Regions from separate parts of the Homo sapiens genome. Here region 1 is linked to region 2. The links come from fine-mapping of genetic effects on gene expression. A gene starts in region 2. The other region holds a variant in brackets. All regions are shown on one strand. Distances are from middle to middle.

The links.
Region 1: its variant is fine-mapped to the expression of ARHGEF10 in whole blood (TOPMed, PIP above 0.99).

Annotation. Positions count from the first base shown.
Region 1 is chr8:1,850,152-1,860,547 of GRCh38, reverse strand. It overlaps ARHGEF10 (Rho guanine nucleotide exchange factor 10), which reads right to left. Exons shown (of 29, transcript NM_014629.4): 3 at 2,433-2,588; 4 at 364-651. Among named protein-coding and RNA genes, the nearest start is that of ARHGEF10, 31 kb to the right of the region's middle. The variant G/C (reference allele first, on the strand shown) is at 5,459.
Region 2 is chr8:1,817,645-1,828,040 of GRCh38, reverse strand. ARHGEF10 (Rho guanine nucleotide exchange factor 10) reads right to left here and starts at 4,115. Exons shown (of 29, transcript NM_014629.4): 1 at 3,928-4,115.

The DNA of each region.
Region 1 (10,396 bases), 33 kb before region 2:
ATCTAATGACCTGGGTGGGGGCAGGGGGAAGGTCAGGCCCGGACTCTACGGAACCACAGGCCACATCAGGGGCATGGAGAGGAGGAGGAGGGAAGGTCAGGCCCAGACTCTACGGAACCACAGGCCACATCGGGGGCATGGAGAGGAGGAGGAGGGGGGAAGGTTAGGCCCGGACTCTACGGAACCACAGGCCACATCGGGGGCATGGAGAGGAGGAGGAGGGGGGAAGGTCAGGCCCGGACTCTACGGAACCACAGGCCACATCCGGGGCATGCAGAGGAGGGAACCACAGGCCACTTCGGGGGCGTGGAGAGGAGGGAACCACAGGCCACTTCGGGGGCGTGGAGAGGAGGGTAGCAGTACCTTCTTCGTCCAGGGACGTGGCGCAGATGATGACCGGGCTGGAGTAGGCGGGCAGCAGGAGGGGCAGGTTGGAGGGCACCGCATAGCCGCAGGGTACAGGCACCAAGTACCCGCAGGGCACATGGAGACCCACATTCTCCTCCTCAGCGCTGGGCACGGGGGTGGGCGGCTGGTCCTCCTGGAATGGCGTGATGTCGATGACAGAATATGGGTTGACTTTCATCGGGAGCACCAGCTTAGTAGGCTCTGCCACTGGGGTGGTTTCTGCTCCAGCTCCATCCTCACCTCCTGGGGATGCAGAAAGGACTTGTCAGCAGACACATCACCAAGGGCATGGCAGGCATGCCCTCCTGGAGCGCAAGTGGGAAGCAGGTATGAGCTCCCACCATCATCCCATGCCAGGACCCCTAGACGTTCCCAGGTCATCAGGTGGCCTCGGAGGGAGCACTCACACATGGGGAACCCAGCATCACCTCTGGGCACAGGTGAGACGGATGCAGCCTGGTCACTACAGGAGGCTCATCCCATGAGCTAAGTCAGGGAGAAGCTGCCGGAGGAGGGCAGCTGCTCCCCTCACCAAGAGTCTGGTGCTACACACAAAGAAACACCATGCAAGCTGAGAGGCGGGTGCTGTGCACAAAGAAACGCCATGCAAACAACCGAGAGGCTGATGCTATGGCCAAAGAAACACTGTGCAAACAACCGAGAGGCTGGTGCTATGCACAAAGAAACACCATGTAAGCAGAGAGGCGGGTGCTGCGCACAAAGAAACACCGTGCAAACAACCGAGAGGCAGGTGCTATGGCCAAAGAAACACCGGGCAAACAACCGAGAGGCTGGTGCTATGCACAAAGAAACACCGTGTAAGCAGAGAGGCGCGTGCTGCACACAAAGAAACACCATGCAAACAACCAAGAGGCAGGTGCTATGGCCAAAGAAACACCGGGCAAACAACCGAGAGGCAGGTGCTATGGCCAAAGAAACACCGGGCAAACAACCGAGAGGCTGGTGCTGTGCACAAAGAAACACCGTGTAAGCAGAGAGGCGCGTGCTGCGCACAAAGAAACACCGTGCAAGCAGAGAGGCGGGTACTATGCACAAAGAAACACCGTGCAAACAACCAAGAGGCAGGTGCTATGGCCAAAGAAACACCGGGCAAACAACCGAGAGGCTGGCGCTACGCACAAAGAAACCATGCAAAGAACCGAGAGGCTGGTGCTACGCACAAAGAAACACGGTACAAGCCAAGAGGTGGGTGCTATGCACAAAGAAACGGCATGCAAACAACCGAGAGGCTGGTGCTGCACCCAAAGAAATGCCGTGCAAGCAGAGAGAAACACTGTGCAAACTGACAGGCTGGTACTACACCTGAAGAAACACCGTGCGAGCCAAGAGGAACGCTGCCAAACTGAGAGGCTGGTACTACACCTGAAGAAACACCGTGCGAGCTGAGAGGCGGGTGCTACACAGGAAGAAACACTGTGCAGGCTCTCCCACCACTGCCTGACCTGAGCAGTCCCTCTGGTCAGCGAATGAAAGCACCCAACCCACCTCCAAACTTAGAAAGCGAAACCTCTACAGCTACTTCATCCCACATGTTCTGAATATTTCTTTTAATCTAGTGATACAATGATGAGGTCATTCTTATTGGGAAATAGCAATACTTTTTCTTTGCAAAATACAAAGGTAGAGTGAAAAGGTTGAAAATTATGGAAAATAGTACAAAGAGAAGAAACTTAGCCAATCTTAAATTAAGTCCTTTCAGGTACATCATGAAGAAATCATAACTCTCTGGCTCCTAGAAATCATCCTTTCCCTACAATGTTCCAATTGGGCCGTAAGAATGGGGAGAAAATCGGCGAGTCCGATGGCTGAGCACAGGTGACCCTGATGCCGGTGATCTGCGGACTCACCTGGGAACCCCCCAGGGGACTCACCTGGGGACCCACCTGGGGACTCACCTGGGGACTCACCTGGGAACTCACCTGGTGACTCACATGGGGACCCACCTGGGGACTCACCTGGGGACCCACCTGGGGACTCACCTGGGGACCCTCCTGGAAACTCACCTGTGGGTGCAGGGGCTTCACTGGCTCCAGCACCTCCTGTCTCAGGGGCGGATGGGGCCTGTCTGTCCGCTTCTGGGATTTCATCTCCACTGTCAAAATCGAACTGTTCTCCCTCTTCCTCTTCATTATTATTGGTATCATATTTCATTTCATTTTCTAAAAAGAAAAACCAAAACCACATCAAGGAGAGATAGATAGATAGATAGATAGATAGATAGATAGATAGATAGATAGATCGATCGATCTATGTTAGCCAGAGACACTGACTAAGTTCCTCTGTGCTGTACTGCGCTTGTAGTTAACCTTTTTAAGGGGCAAAATAAGTATCATTAGAATTCTGAGTCACTGGTTTTTATTTTCTTTTAATAGGATCTACAACTCACAGAGAAGAAACAAGAGGCTGGGGGTGGTAGCTCACATCTGTAATCCCAGCACTTTGGGAGGCCAAGGTGGGCAGATCACAAGGTAAGAAGCTTGAGACCAGCCTGGCCAACATGGTGAAACCCCATCTCTACTAAAAATAAAAAAATTAGCCAGGCGTGTTGGCGGGCACCTGTAATCCCAGCTTCTCAGGAAGGTGGGGCAGGAGAATGGCTTGAACCCGAGAGGCGGAGGTTGCAGTGAACCGAGATTGCACCATTGCACTCCAGCCTGGGTGACAGGGCAAAACTCTGTCTCAAAAAAAAAAAAAAAGAAAAGAAAACAAGAGAAAGTAAGGGGAAAAAAGAGCTTTTCACATTTTAAATCTGTGCACCCAGCAGATGAACATCACCCGGCTGGGCTGATGGTCTGGAAGAGAATTCAGTATCATCCACTTTACTTTTAGAAATAACTTCTGACACCTTGCATCTCTCCCTAGAATTCTTCTCCTTTTATTTTCATTTTGCCTCTCTTATTTACAATTTTAATTAAATATCTCTGATGGTTAGAAAATCAGTGTCAAATATGAACACCGATATATAGCTTAAAATACAAACCTCCATAATTATTAAAGAGCATGGTTAATAACTGTTCCAAGTAAGTGCTTGATAAGAAACATTTTGCAGGAGGCGAGTCACAGGTCTCCTTGGACCGGGGTTACGGCTGATGGCGCAGCCTGCCGTGTGCATCATTTGCAGAGACGGCGTGCTAGGACTGTGTGCCACCATCAGAGCAGACAGGTGCTTCTCCTTTTTCCAGAGGAGACCCATGTGCTGGGACAACACCACCCGGCACACCCAGGAGCGAGAGGAACCCAGCCCCTGCCAGCCTTTCCCAAGGGCTGGGATTTCTTCCCAGCACACGTTCCTGAGGAAACCTCCTGCTGCCATGCCCGGCAATCCACAGAAGCAGGTGGCACCTCGGGACAGAGCCTGGGTCAGCCCAAACCAAGCCCCTCCAACACAGACAATCCCCCGTGGGCCAGGGAGATGCACCCAAGCAGGACGGCCCAGCTCGGCTGCAGGCAGCTCCGGAGGGGGCTGAGGGGGAGCCCTGCTAGGGAGCAACCCACAGACACACAACCCACTTACACTCCACGCAGTCTCCAGGCGCTCTCTGCCGAGCCTCCTGGGGAAGTCGCCTCCCGGGGAACTCTAGCGGTCTAAAAACAACCTTTAAATTTGAGGTGTTTCATTTTCCTTTGAATCTCCTAAACTAGTCATACATTCTAGGAGTGCCTTTTGAAGGAAACAGATTTTTAGGTCACCACAAATACACAGAGGGGCCCAGGCCCACGACAGCGTGAACTGGATCCAGCTACCACTGCAAGGACGGTGGGGATGAGACCCCCAGCTGACCATGACACCTGGGGACCCCACGAGCTTTCTGGAACTGCTTCCACCAACACTCACGAGTTTTACAAGTATGAGAATGACAAATACTAAAATTGAATCAAGAAAAAGGATTCAGAAATGTGTTATTTTTAAAACATACGTCTGATAGGAGTGTGTGTTGCTGTCCTTCTGGATGGTGAACTCTGCTCTGCCCAGATACCAAAGCCTCACCCACTTCCTAGAGGGTCAAAGACTTCTCTAAATTCAAAGTTTTGAATTTAAGCCTAATCAAATGAAACAATCGAAGCAGGGGGAGAGCTGGAATGGACAGAACCGCTAATTTCCAGAGTTTGAGCCTTGTTAACTATGTACTTTCAAACCAGTCCTCACTGTCTCCCAAGCGACCGTAAACAAAACCTATTTCAGAAGGGGTTTTTTTTTTTGCCATATCATTAAGTAGTCAGTTTATGGAAATGAACTGGTGAATACCTTTTAAAGTAAAAAGTTAAACAAACAAAAAAACTGTTTTCTGGAATATTTTCCAAATGCAACTGTCATTTCCACAGAATTCACGTTTGGGGAGAAAAAATCATGTTTGCCAAATAAACGTGCTGCGGAAACAATGCCGACTAAATGCCGTGACGAAAATGATCAGTGAAAATGTTTATGTATTGCTGGGCGCAGGGGCTCACACGTGTAATCCCAGCACTTTCAAAGGCCAAGGAGGACTAATTGCTTGAGCCCAGGAATTTGAGACCAGCCTGGACAACATAGTGAAACCCCGTCTCTTAAAAAAAAAAAAAGGTACAAAAATTAGCCTGGGGTGAAGGCGTGGACCTGTGGTCCCACCTACTCCGAAGGCTGAGGTGGGAGGATCACCTGAACCCAGTAAGCGGAAGTTGCAGTGAGCTGAGATTGCGCCACCGCACTGCAGCCTGGGGGACAGAGCAACACCTTGTCCCCCACCCCAAAAAAAGTTTCTGTTCTGACCACCCCAAAAAAAGTCACTGCCAGGCACATGTTCAGATTCATCCAGACGGTGACACAATCACACTAGATTTTTATATTGTCAACTCTCTTTTTTGGAAATTATAGTTTACTACCGCTGAACTCAAACAATTAGATAAAATACACCTAGACATGAGTCTATAAATATTGTTTTTTAAAAAAGCTTGACAATGTCTGGTACAAAATAGGCTCTCAAATATCTGCAAGGGGAGAAACATGAGCTGTTGGGACCGGAACCCACACTGTACCCCATACAGGAAGAAG[G/C]AATTCTCTTTAAAGTCTTCAGGAAGGAAGGCCGTGAACAGGAGCCCGTGTGTGCAGGAAACAGCCCTGAGGAGACACCGAGGCCCCTCCACTCCCTCCCCATACGCCACCTCCTGGGCTGTGACACCAGCCCCGGGAGACCGGTGGGATTACCTGGGACAGTGCATGTCCCGTGTGCCAGGTACAGGTATGACCCTGAGAAGAACCGCATGCGTTCTCGGAGCCGGCACCTCTGCTCACCGCCCAGCAAGGTGCAGTGGGAAACCTGGTTGGCGGCAATGTGTGACACGCACATCATGTGAGCGAATGAATGAGAGAATGACGAGCAGATGAGCAAGCTTCAAACTGTTTTTTGCCAAAATAACTCACTTTTTCCCCTAGTAAAATTTAAGTAGAATTCTACTATACAAGGGAAATCAAAGCAATCAAGAAATTCCTCCAAAAGTTTAAATCTTGTTAGTTTAGACTTGGAGGGGCTTGGAAGGGGCTTGGGGCTTGGAATTCAAGAGCTCTCTGCTGTCATTGAAAGACTGGCAGACACTGGCGGAGCTGCCCTCCATCCTCTGCAAACACTGCAGGGAAAGACTTTCAAGTTATATAGACTCTGCAGAATGATGTGTGTTACAAATTCCTCTCAGAATTCAGTTCCAGTAAGAAAAAAATAGCCTTTCTACAAGAACTCAAAGAAGTTGTGCTCAATGTAACCACCTGAGGCTGCACCCCTGCCTGCATGGGTGCCCACAGCTGTGCCCACGGCGGGCGCCCAGGACAGAGGGCGAGGCCGCCTGGAGCTGGGCTGCTCCTCTGACCCCCACCTCCAAGGGGGCCTCCATCGATGGTGAGGCTGCGCCGCCCTCTGAGGTGAGCATGGGGCCGGGCGTTCAAGGTGGTGTGTGCTGAGCATGTCCATCCCAGACACTGCCCTGGGCCCTGGGGGATCCTGGGCATCACAGACCCCACCCGAGCTCCCCAGGTCCCTTAGTGAAGTGCAATGCAGAATGCCTTTAAAAATCCCAGCATTTGGGGTCCTAAGTTTAGTTCTGACACCAGCCCTGACAGGTTCAATTGTGTCCCCTAAATCCCTGTGCTGAAATCCTCACCCCCAGTCTGCTGGTGAGCTCGTCTGCAAACAGGTGACTGCAGGTGCAATTGGTTTACAGGAGGCTGTGCTAGAGCAGGCTCGGCTAACCCAGTGTGGCAGTGTCCTCATGACAGCAGAGGCCAGCACAGGGACGAGGAGCCACCTGGCAGTGCAGCTGCAGGAACTCCCGGGAGTGCCCACAGCCGGCGGGCGCTGGAAGAGGCAAGGAAGGCTGTGACCTACATTCCCGGGGAGCACACACAGCCTGCCAGCACCCTGACCTGGGACTTCCGGCCTGCAACCCAGGAGGCTCCCCCGCAAGCTCGGCCAAGCCCTTTCCAACACAAAAGGTCCTGTGCCATCCTCAGGGCCCTGGCGGGAGCCAGGCAAGCTGGGCTGGGTCGGTTCCCACAACACTCCTGCTGCAGCCACAGAAGGAATTCCCGCTTCTCAAAACCCCAGCTTCAGAACCCAGCCATTCAGCTGAAGGAGAACACTGATGAGAAAAACTACAATTTGCAAACTAGAAAAGATGCTCAAGGGCTGCTGAAAGCATCTCAGGAGATACAACGTGTTGTAGTTTGAGACGACATGGATCTTTCAAAAAGCTGTTGGGGAATCTGCAGTGTAGCCGTCATTCGCTGGACACACCATGGCCCAGTGTTCTCCGCCCGTTGGTCCCTGTGGAGCCCAGGAGGTGGGCGGGAAGGGCCCGGCGCTCTGGGTAGGCAGCTGGCAGGGAAGCAGGGAAGGGCGGCCTGGGCAGGGCTGCACCTAGGGAGAGGCTCTGTGCCCCTCCTGCCCACTCAGGACGGCAGGTTCTGAGAGTCACCCATGAAGGCCATGACACGGAGGAGGAAACACAGACGGCAGTGCAGCCCGTGCCGACCCACAGGCATCCAGCCCAAATCTAACCACCCGCCAGTGCCCGGCCCAAATCTAACCACCCGCCAGCGCCCGGCCCAAATCTAACCTGGGGACCATTCTTCCCCTGCCCCTCTCCTCTGGCCTGCCCAGGACAGGCTGCCCTCTGGCCACAGCTGCACTTCCCAGGAAAACTGCAGGCTCTGCTGCATTCAGGGGCCAGCCCTTGTGGGTCACCGGCAGCTTGACACGACACCCCTAATGCTGACCGACAGCAGCAGCCATTTAAGCCTCAGGATTCAGACTGTTTCCGTCACAGCAGGGCCATTGGGGCTGCCTTGGTGGCACTGACTTCTTACCAACCTGACTTTTTACACTTGTGAGTATGCAGGTAATTGGCTCATCAATTAAGGCACACATTTCTAAAACAAGTTATGAAATAGAAAACTTTAAGAAACATTACGTTTCCAATCATTATGACATAATATGACCATGCCCATTTTAAGTTATGCCTATATGCAAAAAAGGGCGAGGAAGTTACCTGACAATCCAATCTTCGAAATGCTGCTGCTAGAAAAGGTGCTGCTCCCGGGTTCTCTCCAGGATGATGGAGAGGTTCTAGAGGGCCCTCAGGACAGAAACGGTGCTGCTCCCCGGTCCTCTCCAGGATGATGGAGAGGTTCTAGAGGGCCCTCAGGACAGAAACGGTGCTGCTCCCCGGTCCTCTCCAGGATGATGGAGAGGTTCTAGAGGGCCCTCAGGACAGAAACGGTGCTGCTCCCCGGTCCTCTCCAGGATGATGGAGAGGTTCTAGAGGGCCCTCAGGACAGAAACGGTGCTGCTCCCCGGTCCTCTCCAGGATGATGGAGAGGTTCTAGAGGGCCCTCAGGACAGAAACGGTGCTGCTCCCCGGTCCTCTCCAGGATGATGGAGAGGTTCTAGAGGGCCCGCAGGACAGCTCAAGTCACACATGGCTATTGCACTTGGGGTGGCCAGTGTGACCAAGAGCCTCAGTTGTTGTTGTTATTTAATTCTTATCAATTCTAAGTTTTGTAGACACCTGAGCCTAGTGGACCTCGCAGGCCTGAATCTCGAGCTATCAAGACGGCTAACGGCCTGTCTGAGCCTGAGAGCCGTCCCCACACCCACAGGGCCCCTCTGCTTGTGTCTGTCTTCATATGGTCTGCAGCAGAGATTCATTTCCATTTGGTTATTAATTTTTTTTTTTTTTGAGACAGAGTCATGCTCTGTTGCCCGCGCTGGAGTGCAGTATTGCGATCGCAGCTTACTGCAGCCTTGACCTCCTGGGCTCAAGCAATCCTCCCACCTCAGCCTCCCAAGCAGCCAGGACTACAGGCATGAGCCACCACGCCTGGCTAAGTTTTATTATTTTTAATAGAGACGAGGTGGCACTATGTTGCCCAGGCTGGTCTCAAACTCCTGAACTCAAGTGATCCTCCTGCCTCGGCCTCCCAAAGTGCTGGGATTACAGGCAAGAGCCAACGTGCCCACCCCAGTTTGGTTGCTTTTAAGAGATACAACTTTTTAGAGCAGTTTTAGGTTCACAGGAAAATTGAGAGGAAGGTACAGAGAGTTCTCATATACTCCCCACCCCCAAAGAGAGCCTCCCCCAACACTATCCCCCATCCTTTGCCAGAGTGGAACACTTGTTGCAACTGAGAAGCCAACACTGAGGTACGTCACTAACTAAAGCCCACGGTGTGTGTTAGGCCTCGCTCCTGGTGCTGTGCCTTCTGTGTGAGGAGCCAACAATGAGGTATGTCACTAACTAAAGCCCACGGTGTGCGTGAGGCCTCGCTCCTGGTGCTGTGCCTTCTGTGTGAGGAGCCAACACTGAGGTACGTCGCTAACTAAAGCCCACGGTGTGCGTGAGGCCTCGCTCCTGGTGCTGTGCCTTCTATGGGTTTGGACAGGCGTGTAATGATGTTGAGGTACGTCGCTAACTAAAGCCCACGGTGTGCGTGAGGCCTCGCTCCTGGTGCTGTGCCTTCTATGGGTTTGGACAGGCGTGTAATGACATGGATGCACCATTATCAAGGAATTTCGTGGCCCTAAAAATCCCGTGCTCCGCCTGTCACCCCTCCCCCCCGCAAACCCCTAGCAACCCTGAGCTTGTTACTGTATAATTTTGTTTTCTAGAATGTCACGTGGTTGGAATCGCACCGGGCGCAGCCTTTTCAGGTTGGCTTCTCTCGCTCAGTAAGATGCATTTAAGGCTCCTCCATGTCTTTTCACGGCTTGGCAGCTCATTTCTTCCTAGCACTGAATGTTCCACTGTCTGAATGGGCCCCAGTTTATCCATCCATTCACCTCCTGAAGGACATCATGGCTGCTTCTGGGTTCTGGCAATTATGAATAAAGCTGCTATCAACACCTATATGGGCAGGTATTGAGTGGACATTAAGTTTTCAACTCATTTAAATAAATACGCCGGGGCATGGCTGCAAGTCACACGGTAAGAGTGTGCTCAGGTTTGAAGAAGCCACCAAACTGCCCTCCCACGCGGCTGCCCCACGCCCTCTAGCCACCCGCCAGCACCCGGCCCTCCTCAGCATTTGCCGTCTGTGTCCACGCAGCTGCCCCACGCCCTCCTCAGCATTTGCCATCTGTGTCCACGCGGGTGGCCCATGCCGTCTTCCGCACTTGCCGTCCATGCCCACGCGGTTGCCCCACACCCTCCTCAGCATTTGCCGTCTGTGTCCACGCGGTTGCCCCACACCCTCCTCAGCATTTGCCGTCCATGCCCACGCGGCCGCCCCACACCCTCCTCGGCATTTGCCGTCTGTCCACACGGTTGCCCCACGCCCTCCTCAGCATTTGCCGTCCATGCCCACGCGGCCGCCCCACACCCTCCTCAGCATTTGCCGTCTGTGTCCACGCGACTGCCCCACGCCCTCCTTAGCATTTGCCATCCATGCCCATGTGGCCGCCCCACGCCCTCCTCAGCATTTGCCCTCTGTGTCCACGTGGCC
Region 2 (10,396 bases):
CAGGGACTGACGGTCATTAAGATATTGGAACCTAGAATGGCCAGATTGGTAACTAGCCAATGCTGATGCAGCCAGGCCTATTCTACGCAGACAGCCATGCATCTCTACATGTGCCTGTTAACAACCTGCATGCTTCCCCATCGCTCCCTCACAAGGGCCCCCGCACCAGTCACAGCTCTGGATACCATATTTTACTTTACACAGTTATTTCCCCTATCAGAAGTGACCCATGGAAGAGAAAAACTTTGAACCCAAACATTTTTAAAAATATTTTACACCTTTTTCACATCATTTAACAAAAATATAAAATACCAACAACCCCCATATAGCACTTTCTACTGGCAGGCCTGCTTTACTCTAATGATACAACAAAAAGCAGGAAATGGCAATGATGGAAGGAAAGGAAAAATCCACGATTTAAAATGATCATTTTGACGGGGCATGCAGTGGCTCACGCCTGTAATCCCAGCGCTTTGGGAGGCTGAGGCAGGTGGATCACTTGAGGTCGGGAGTTCAAGACCAGCCTGGCCAACATGGCAAAACCCGTCTACTAAAAATACAAAAATTAGCCGGGCACGGTGGTGGGTGCTTATAATCCCAGCTACTTGGGAGGCAGAGGCAGGAGAATTGCTTGAACCTGGGAAGCAAAGACTGCAGCAAGCCGAATCTCTCCACTGCACTCCAGCCTGGGCAACAGAGTGATACTCCATTTCAAAAAAAAAGATCACTTTTTTATCAAAATTTGGAAAACTACTCACAGAAAACAAACAAACAGAACCAAAACCAATGTCCAAACCTGACAACTATGAACAGGCTGAAGCAGAGTAGGGTGGCAGATGTGGCAGAAGTGTGTGTGTATCAGCGTGGGGGCTGGTGGCAGGGCATTCTCCCTGGGCCCCTTTGCCACACCTGTCCTTACAGGTAACCCTGCCCCTCCCTAGACGGACCTGGGGCTGTGGCCCTGTCTGCCACCCAGGCAAGGACCCCTGCTGGTCACCGGCCTCTGCTCTCCCTGCCTCTCAGACCCTTGGCAGCCCCTGGGCCTGGCCCACCCCTTTCCACTGCAGAGCTCCCAGAACCTTCCAAAATTACACTCCCAGAAAGCCTGGTTAAGGGAGAGAGCTGAAGTTCTCCCTCATGAATGACTAACAGCTACGCTTCCCTTCTGTCTTATTTCACGCCACTTACCTTTCTACCCAGGCAAACTATAAGCAACGCACGCATGAAACACAGATTCTCTGAGCATCTCCAGATCCGAGCTGTTCTTTGCATGCTTCCTGCCACACACTGTGCAGTAAACAATGACGGGCCTACAACAGCGCTTTCTTACATCTCACTATGACGTTTTCACATCGCTTACAGAATACAACCGTCATTAGCGCATTTCCAGTTTGCTCTAATTTATGCCAAACATCTTTGTTTTAAGCAGCACTTCCCCATACAACGCCTTCTAGCAACTTCGTAAGTGAGCACCCTCAAGTCCCGTGAGAAGTCTGGACTCACAGGGCCAGGGAAAAGCTTCCCCACCTCAACCCAGGTCTGTAACTCCACACCCTCCACACCACCCAACGCCTCTATCTACAACTCACACACGCGCACACACACACACACAAAGCGCACACACACACAGCACACACACAAACACACGCACACACAAACGCACACACATGCATACAAACACAAACACATACACAAAGACACACGCACACGTATGCACACACAAACTGCAGAGGAAAGGCAGCACACCAAAGCACCCAGAAGACAAATGTGGTTACATCTGGAAGTCAAGCATCAACTTTTAAAAACATAAAAAGCTATTCTGAATAACTTTTAACTTCACTTCACCCCCAACTGTCTACAACTAATGAATTACAAATAGCACCTTATACAAATGACTTTTCTTACTGCTGAGAAATCCTGGAGGTCTCATCTGTCTATAAAGAGTTATGCATCCGTAACTGCCGATGTTGGCTGCTAAAGCCAGCAAATAAATGCTGTGAGAGACAGACAGGGACAAAGTGTGTTTTTAAAAATACATGACGTGTAAACCTCAGTAATCATCTCTCTTTTCGAATAAAAATTATTTTCTATAAAGCAGGTGTTCAAAACATATTATTAATCAGCAACAGTGAAATTGTTCCTCCTTGCAGCATTCCACCCATATGGACATTAAGTCACTCCTGCACAGAATCTAGAATACTGACCAGTCCGTACTCAGGTTATGGTTAACCAGAGAAAAGAATTAAAACCCGTTACATCTTGAGTCAATGAGAATTTTTACTTGCAGCCAAAGTTAGTGACTGGAATCAATATCAGACAACAGCAAGTTCGTCTACTGCTGCCTGGGAACATGACCTACTGGCCACAGTCGGGAGGGGTACTCAGACCTCACCTTCAGTGCCCAGGGGCCCATGGAAGGGGAGTGGGGCTGGGACAGGTGGGCAGGGCGTCTGTGGACCTAGGGCAGTTTCCTCAGAATCTACCTTGGCTTCTTGGGCACCAGCGGGCTGTGGGGTGCAGGGGAACAGGTGGAGTACGGGGGGGACAGCTGGGGTGCGAGGGACAGCTGGGGTGCAGGGTAAACAGGTGAGGTGTAGGGGGACAGGTGAGGTGCAGAGGACAGGTGGGGATCAGGGGGACAGGTGGGGTGCAGGACAGTTGAGGTGCAGGGGACAGGTGGGGTTCAGGGAGAGAGGTGGGGTGCGAGGACAGGTGGGGTGCGGGGGAACAGGTGGGGTACGGGGAGACAGGTGGGGTGCGGGGGGACAGGTGGGGTGCAGGTGAACAGGTGGGGTGCGGGGGACAGGTGGGGTGCGGGGGGACAGGTGGGGTGCGGGGGGACAGGTGGGGTGCGGGGGGACAGGTGGAGTGCGGGGGGACAGGTGGGGTGCGGGGGGACAGGTGGGGTGCGGGGGGACAGGTGAGGTGCAGGGGGGACAGGTGGGGTGCGGGGGGACAGGTGGAGTGCGGGGGGACAGGTGGAGTGCGGGTGAACAGGTGGGGTGTGGGGGGACAGCTGGGGTGCAGAGTAAACAGGTGGGGTGTGGGGAGGACAGGTGGGGTGCGAGGGGACAGGTGGGGTGCGGGGAACTGGTGGAGTGCAGAGTTAACATGGGGTGCTGAGGGACAGGCGGGGTACACGGGGTGCGGGGAACTGGTGGGGTGTGGGGGGACAGCTGGGGTGCAGAGTAAACAGGTGGGGTGTGGGGAAGACAGGTGGGGTGCAGGGGGAACAGGTGGGGTGCGAGGGGACAGGTGGGGTGCAGAATAAACAGGTAGGGTGCGGGGGGACAGGCGGGGTGCGGGGGAATAGGTGGGGTGTGGGGGGGACAGCTGCGGCGCGGGGGACAGCTGGGGTGCAGGGTAAACAGGTGGGGTGCGGGGGGACAGCTGGGGTGCGGGGAACTGGTGGAGTGCAGAGTGAACAGGGGGTGCTGAGGGACAGGCGGGGTACACGGGGTGCGGGGAACTGGTGGGGTAGGGGGACAGGTAGGGTGCGGGGGAAAGACGCCGGCTTTCCTTACACCGGTCCTTCTCTGCATCCTGAGGCGGACCGCATTCTTCTCCTTTACCGGAAAATCTAAGTTACTGCACGACCCCCCAGGCGAAGCCAGCTCGCCCCTCGGGCTCCTTCCGCCGATCGGAGTTCGCTCCTGCCCCTGGGGCCAGGGGTCCCTGCTGCCAGTCCCTGCTCCCCCCGCCCAGGCCCGCGCCGTTATCCTGAGGGGCCGGGGGCGCCGCGGAAGGGGGAGCTGCTCGGGGGGAGGGGGTCTCAGCCCCTTCCCTGAAACATCTGCGCAGGGGGTCGGGGGCGCAGCCACCTCCGGGTGGGACCCAGCGATTTCGGGGGAGCCGGGCAGAAGTGCAACTCTCAAAGGAAACCAGAAGCCCGCGAGGGGACCCACGGTCCGCGGGGCCCGCACTCACCTCGGCGGCCAGGACGCGACCCGCAGTCCCCTGCTGTTCCCCGCCGTCCCCCGCTGTTCCCCGCCGTCCCCCGCTGTTCCCCGCCGTCCCCCGCCGTTCCCCGCCGTCCCCCGCGTCCCCCGCGTCCCCCGCGACCCCGTCCGTCCCGGATCGCGCGCCCGCCGGCTACAGGGATGCGCCCAGCCCCTCCCGCCCGGACGGCCTGCTCCACCCACCATGCTGTCATTGGCGGGCCCAGACCGTTCCGGGCGCCCATTGGCCGCAGAGCCTGCCGGTTTCTCGGCAGCGCCCTGCCCTCGCGCCCGCGCATTCCTTCGAGGCCACGTGGCCGCCCGCGCCCCCTCCCGCTGCCCAACGCCCGGCCCAGGCTGCGCACGCGTGGGAGGGGGCGCGCGGCAGAGGCTCCCGCCCCCGGATCATCTCCTGCCCCGCGGACCCCGGGCCGCGCTCACTTCGGGAGGGGTCGCTGGGCAGACCGAGTGCCCTCCCCGCCCCCAACATCTGGATCCTCCCCGCAGAGCCTGCTCCCGGCTCAGAGCTGCGCCCCTTGGGGAGGGTGCGCCGGGCAGACCCTAACCCTCTCCCAGAGCACCGCCCTTTCTGCGGACCCCCACGGGCTGAGCTCACCTGAGGGAGGGGGCGTCGGGCAGACGCTCCCCCCCCCAGAACATCGCCCCTCCCTGCGGACACCCGGGGTGCGCCCAGCCGAGGAGGGGGCGTCGGGACCCCACCCGACCCGCCCTTGAGCCCCCGTCCCTCCGTCCGCAGCTGGCCCTGCCCACAGGGCGTTCCGGGTCTTCCGCGCCAGCTGCCCTGGACCAGCCAAGGCTTGGGCGTTTGGAAATGCGATGACTTCAGCCACGTTTCCGAGGCAGTTTTTGAAGCTTGCTTCTTGCCAGGAAGCGCTCGTTTTTCCCGGGACCTTTCCAGGGAATGGCCCCTTCTGAGTTATTGGAATTGTTTACTTTGAGCATTTATTTGTCTTATACTTTTAAAAAGGAAACAGATTATCGTTATAATTACTATTAAAGAAAAAAAAAAACGAGAAACAAAGACATTTTTAACCAAAATAACTAAAGGATGTTATCTTTTACCTGGTCAGCACATTTAACAAGTGTGTTCGCAGATGCTAGATTTATTTCTATGCCTTCTCCTACCCAAATCTCCGAATCATAGAAGTAATTTTAAGTCAGTGTTTTAGAACTGTCAGACTTCTTAGAGATTTCTAGCCCCTTTCACTTGTTTTATAGAAGAAATACAAACAGCTATTTGGGATGCTAAGTATCACGAAATTAATCTAAACATTAACTGCCCTTAAGGCTTGTGTGCTCTGGAATAAGTTATTTCCCTGAAAATTTTGGACTATGTAAAAATCATAGCCAACATAGAAAGACTACAATGGCTGGAAAAAATAATCGTAGGTAAGGTGATATTTTTTCAATGTTTATTATTCACACTTGCTAATTTTATGAAATCAGACTGAGTTGTTTTTATGAATCAATTGAAAAAGGTATTTGCTCTCAGCGACCTTAAGATTAGAAAACTTATTTCAGGTTTCTATTCCTAGGGTTCTCTGGGTACCTTATTCAGAGATCTTCTGCACAGATCAATGGTCAGATCAATGGTCTTGATCAACAGAAGTAAGAAGGTCAACTAAATTAGTTCTTGTTTACCTAAATACGATGAGAAAATCCTGATACTTGTAGTGTTTTCTAAAAAGGTAGAGATAAGAGGAAATAGTCCTGTGTATGGAATAAACAACTCATTTTCTCAATGGATGAAATTGAGCCCCTAAACTCAGGGCCGCCAGGGACACCACTGAGTAGGGCCACAGAGCAATGCCTTCCAGGCAGGTTGGGCAGAAAATCCCCTGATTTGGAGCTCCAATAGATCCTGTCTGTCTGCTTTATTCAGGCGTTCCTCACAGATACATCCCTATTTTCGTAAGCCCGGATATGGAAGAGTTGGGATTTTCCATTGTGATTCCCTCTTTGACCCATGGGATATTTAGAAAAGTTAGGTTCACCTTTCAAATATATGGGGACTTTCTGGTTTTCTTTTTATTGTAACTAAAGTTTAATTCCACCGGGCCTTAAAACATCAGCTGTTTTATTTTTGTCGTTTAAGATTTTCAAACACTTGCTTCATGGCCCAACATTGTCTATTTTGGTAAATGTTCTATGAGCACTTGCTGAGAACATGCTTTCACTGACATAAAGTTCTACAGATGTCAATTAGGTCATATTTGTTACTGATTTTTTTATCTACTTGTACTTTTTATCTACTTGTACTTTTTATCTACTTGTACTGATAAGGGTGTATGAAAATCTTTGACTCTCCGTAGTCTATTCAGCATTGTCCTGCAGCATCTAACAAGTGTTGTAGGTCATAAAAACAAAAAGTGTAAGGATTGAGGGAGGAAAAACTGATTATTTACAGTCAATATGATTATATATGTTAAAAAACAAAATTATCTACAAATAAACTATTAGGATTAAAATAGAATTTAGGAATTTCAGATGGATCATAGACTTAAGTGTAAAAATTATAAAGTTGCTAGGATAAAATATAAGAAAAGATCTTACGGATCTTCAGGTAAGACAGAAAATGGACCGACCATTTAAAAATGATTAAATGGCTTATCAAAATTTAATATTTCTACTCATCTCATGACATCATTAAGAAAATGAAAAGGCAAGCCACAGACTGGGAGAACACAGGGGCAATGCATATATCCCACAAATGGCTTGTCTTAATCCACGTTGTGCTGCTGTAACAGAATACCTGGGAATGGGTGATTTACAATGAAAAGAAATTTATTTCTCACAGTTCTGGAGGCTGGGAAGTTCAAGATCAAGGAGCCACATCTGGCAAGAACCTTCGGGCTGCATCATCCCATGACGGAAGGTGGGAGGCGGAGGTGGGGAGGGAGGATGCAAAATGGGCCAAACTTATCTTTTTTTTTTTTTTTTTTGAGACGGAGTCTTGCTCTGTCATCAGGCTGGAGTGCAGTGGTGCGATCTCTGCTCACTGCAACCTCCGACTCCCTGGTTCAAGCTATTCTGCCTCAGCCTCCCGAGTAGCTGGGATTACAGGTATGTGCCACCACACCCAGCTAATTTTTGTATTTTTAGTAGAGACGAGGTTTCACCCAAACTCATTCTTTTATAAGGAGCCCACCGCCTCAGTCATGGCATTTATCCATCCATGAGGGTCATACCCCCATGACCCAGACACCACCTAGTAGGCACCTTCCAACACTGCTGCATTGGGGGTCAAGTTTCCAACACATAAACTTTGGGGAAAACGCGTTCAAACCATAGTCCTGGTAAATAGAGAACTCCTGCAAATGAACAATAACAAGACAAGTCTATTTCAAAAGGGACAAAACAATATAACAATAACAAGCCTGTAAATAACAATAACAAGTCTATTTAAAAATAAACAAAAGACGTAAATACTTCACCAAAGATGTACTGATAGCCAACAAGAACAGGAAATAGTGCTCAGTGTTACCCAAAGTAAACTCACAATGAGATGCCACCACCGTCATCCAAGCACGGCTGAAACTGCAGACCGACATGGCAAGGGTAAAAATGTGGAGCCCCTGGAACCACTATACAAGGCGATGAGAGTGCAAATGGCGCAACCACTCTGATTAATTGTTTGCCCATTTCTCAGCAATCCCACTTTTAGGTTTGCCCAAGGCAAGTGAAAACATAAGTCCCTTAAAAGACTTTTACAGCCAGACATGGTGACTCCCACCTGTAACCCCAGCACTTTAGGAGGCCAAGGTGGAGGATTGCTTGAGCCCAGGAGTCTAGCATGATAGTCTCCACCTCCAGTCCCAGCTACTTAGGAAGCTGAAGTGGGAGGATCGCTTGAGGCTGGGAGGTCAAGGCTGTAATGAGTCATGTTCACCACCACTGCACTCTAGCCTGGGTGGACAGAGCAAGACCCTGTCTCAAAAAAAAAAAATGATTTTTACAAGAATTCTTTCTTCAAAACAGTTCAAATACTTCGCAACTGGAAACAACCCAAATTCCATCAACAGGTGAACTCATAAAGTATTGTATCTTCATAGAATAATAGAATACTAATAATACAGTAATAAAAAGGAAGAAACTGATATGTTCAATAACAATGAATCTTGAAAACATGAAAAACATAGACAAAAGGGCACATATAGTATGATTCAATTTTTATGAAATTCAAGAATGTGCCAAACCAACCTATAATAATAGGAATCAGAACAGTGGTTATTTTTGGGGGTATTGTCTCAGAAAAGACAAAGGAATTCTGGGGAGTGATGAAAACGGTGACTACATCTTGATTTGATTTGCAGACACATGGGTGTGTTCACTTTGTAAATAGAATCAAGCCGAACACAAGAGTAAGCTACTTCATGGGATATATACAGTGGCCTCAATGCATCCCCCTTGATGACTGAAAGTTCATCACCAACGTGATAGCAGTAAGAGGTGGGGCCTTGAGGAGGTTAGTGGGTCATGAGGGATGGGCTTAGTGCCCTTGTAGAAGTGCCAGGGGGCTGTTCACCCCTCCTACCAGTGAGGGCACAGTGCTCAAGGTGCTGTCTTGTGAGCAGAGACCAGGCTCTCCCCAGACACTGAACCTGTTGGCACGTTGATCTTGGACTTCCCCACGTCCAGAACTGTGAGAAATAAACTCCTGTTGTCTATAAATGACCCAGTCTCTGGTGTTTTGTTACAGTAGCAGGAACAAATTAAGTTATGTATCAGCAAAAAGGGGTTTTAAAAGCTGGGTTCCTTTAAAAAAATAATGATTCCCTTTATTGACGGAATACAAAATATCCCTTAATTAATTGCAAGCAAATTAAGTGCAAGGCCCATGCAGAGGGTAGGGATAATCTATACCCTAGTTAGGACATTCAGAAAGGAAAAAAATGGCAAAGACAGCCTGCCTGGTTCTAGGCCTCGCCTCTACTCCAGAGACGTCTCCATGCCCCACGCGGAGCGGGTGCGTGAGGTCAGCTCTAGCAGGGCCTAAAGGCCTGGGCTCTATCATCAAATAGGCCCGGGGGCTTCTGCCTCTTTTACCACTATATGGATGAACATGGGCGTCATTCAATGTCCTGGGCCTCAGTCTCCTCACTGAAAACAAGAGCAAAACCTACTTAGGCAGCATGAAGACTCAACACTTTCATGTGCAGAGACCGGTGTCAGGGCACCTGACCCCATGGACATCTCGGGGGAGCCTGAGGCACTGTCCGAAGATGGAAGCTTGTATCCACTCCTGGGCACAGTTCCTGGGTTCACATCCCAGGCACTTCCCTTACCAGCTGTGCTATCTGCATTGCTGTGCCTCAGTTTCCTGCAAAGAATTGGAAAGACATTCGCACCTACTGTGCGGGTCAGTTTTATATGTCACCTTGACCAGGTGACAGTCCCCGGTAATTCATTCAACATGGGTCCAGATGTGGCTGTGGAGGTGTTCTGTTGGTGTGCAAAAGACCCATCACAGTGGACTTTAAATGAGGAAGACTATGTTAGACAATCCGGGTGGGCCCGATTCAGCACTGGAAAGGCTTTCCAGAGAAGAAATTCCGCTGTGGGCGGTAGCTTCAGCTCTGCCCCAGGTCCAGCCTGCCCTTCCCACGGCCTGCCTGCCTGGACCTCGCTCCCAGGCCCCCATCGTGGTGCCGGATCCAGGCTCTAAATCTCTCCAGGTCTGCCTCCTACTGGCTGAACCTTGGCTGAGGCCACTTGTAGGATGGCGCCATTGAAAGGGAGATGGCATGCACACATCTCAGAACTACTCCACTCCGCAGGCGGGGAGCGAGACACTGAGCCCGGGGACGGCGAACAACCCTGGATGTGAGACCTCAGACAAGTCCCTGACCGTACTGAGCCTGCTATCTCGTGGATACAGGGTTAGTCACCAGTCCCTGGCTCTGGAGCGGCGGTGAAGATGAAGGCATCCTGGGTGCACCTGGCGCTCTGCCTGGCCCACAGCGCACGTGGGGCAGACCTCAGGCCGCAGTCACGGGGCTGCTCAGGTGCTGCGATGGGAGAAGAGCCAGGAAGTGAGTCTCCACCCAGTGCCGCTCAGTCACGGGACCCAGGTACAGCCTGGCAGAGGACAGACGGCGCTCCAGGGAGACCCTGGGGCAGCGTGGGGCTGGGGTGGGGCTGTCACACGGCAGAGGCCCTGGGCAAGTGCGGAGGCCACACGAACATGGGGTGCAGGGGGTACATGGAAATCAGAGGCCCCCTTCAGGCCTCTCAGCCTCCCAGCCTCGAGCCATGAGTTCTGTCTGGGCTCACGCAACCCCAGACGTGGCTGAAGAGGCTGGAGTGTCGACGAGCGCTGGGAAGAAGCTGCCGACCTCACTGCTCCGCGCCCTGCCTTCCCCTCCCTCCTGCCGTCCCCAGTCACCCCGAGGCATCACCCGGCCGGGCTCCCTGGGGCAACACATCCGAGAGCCCCC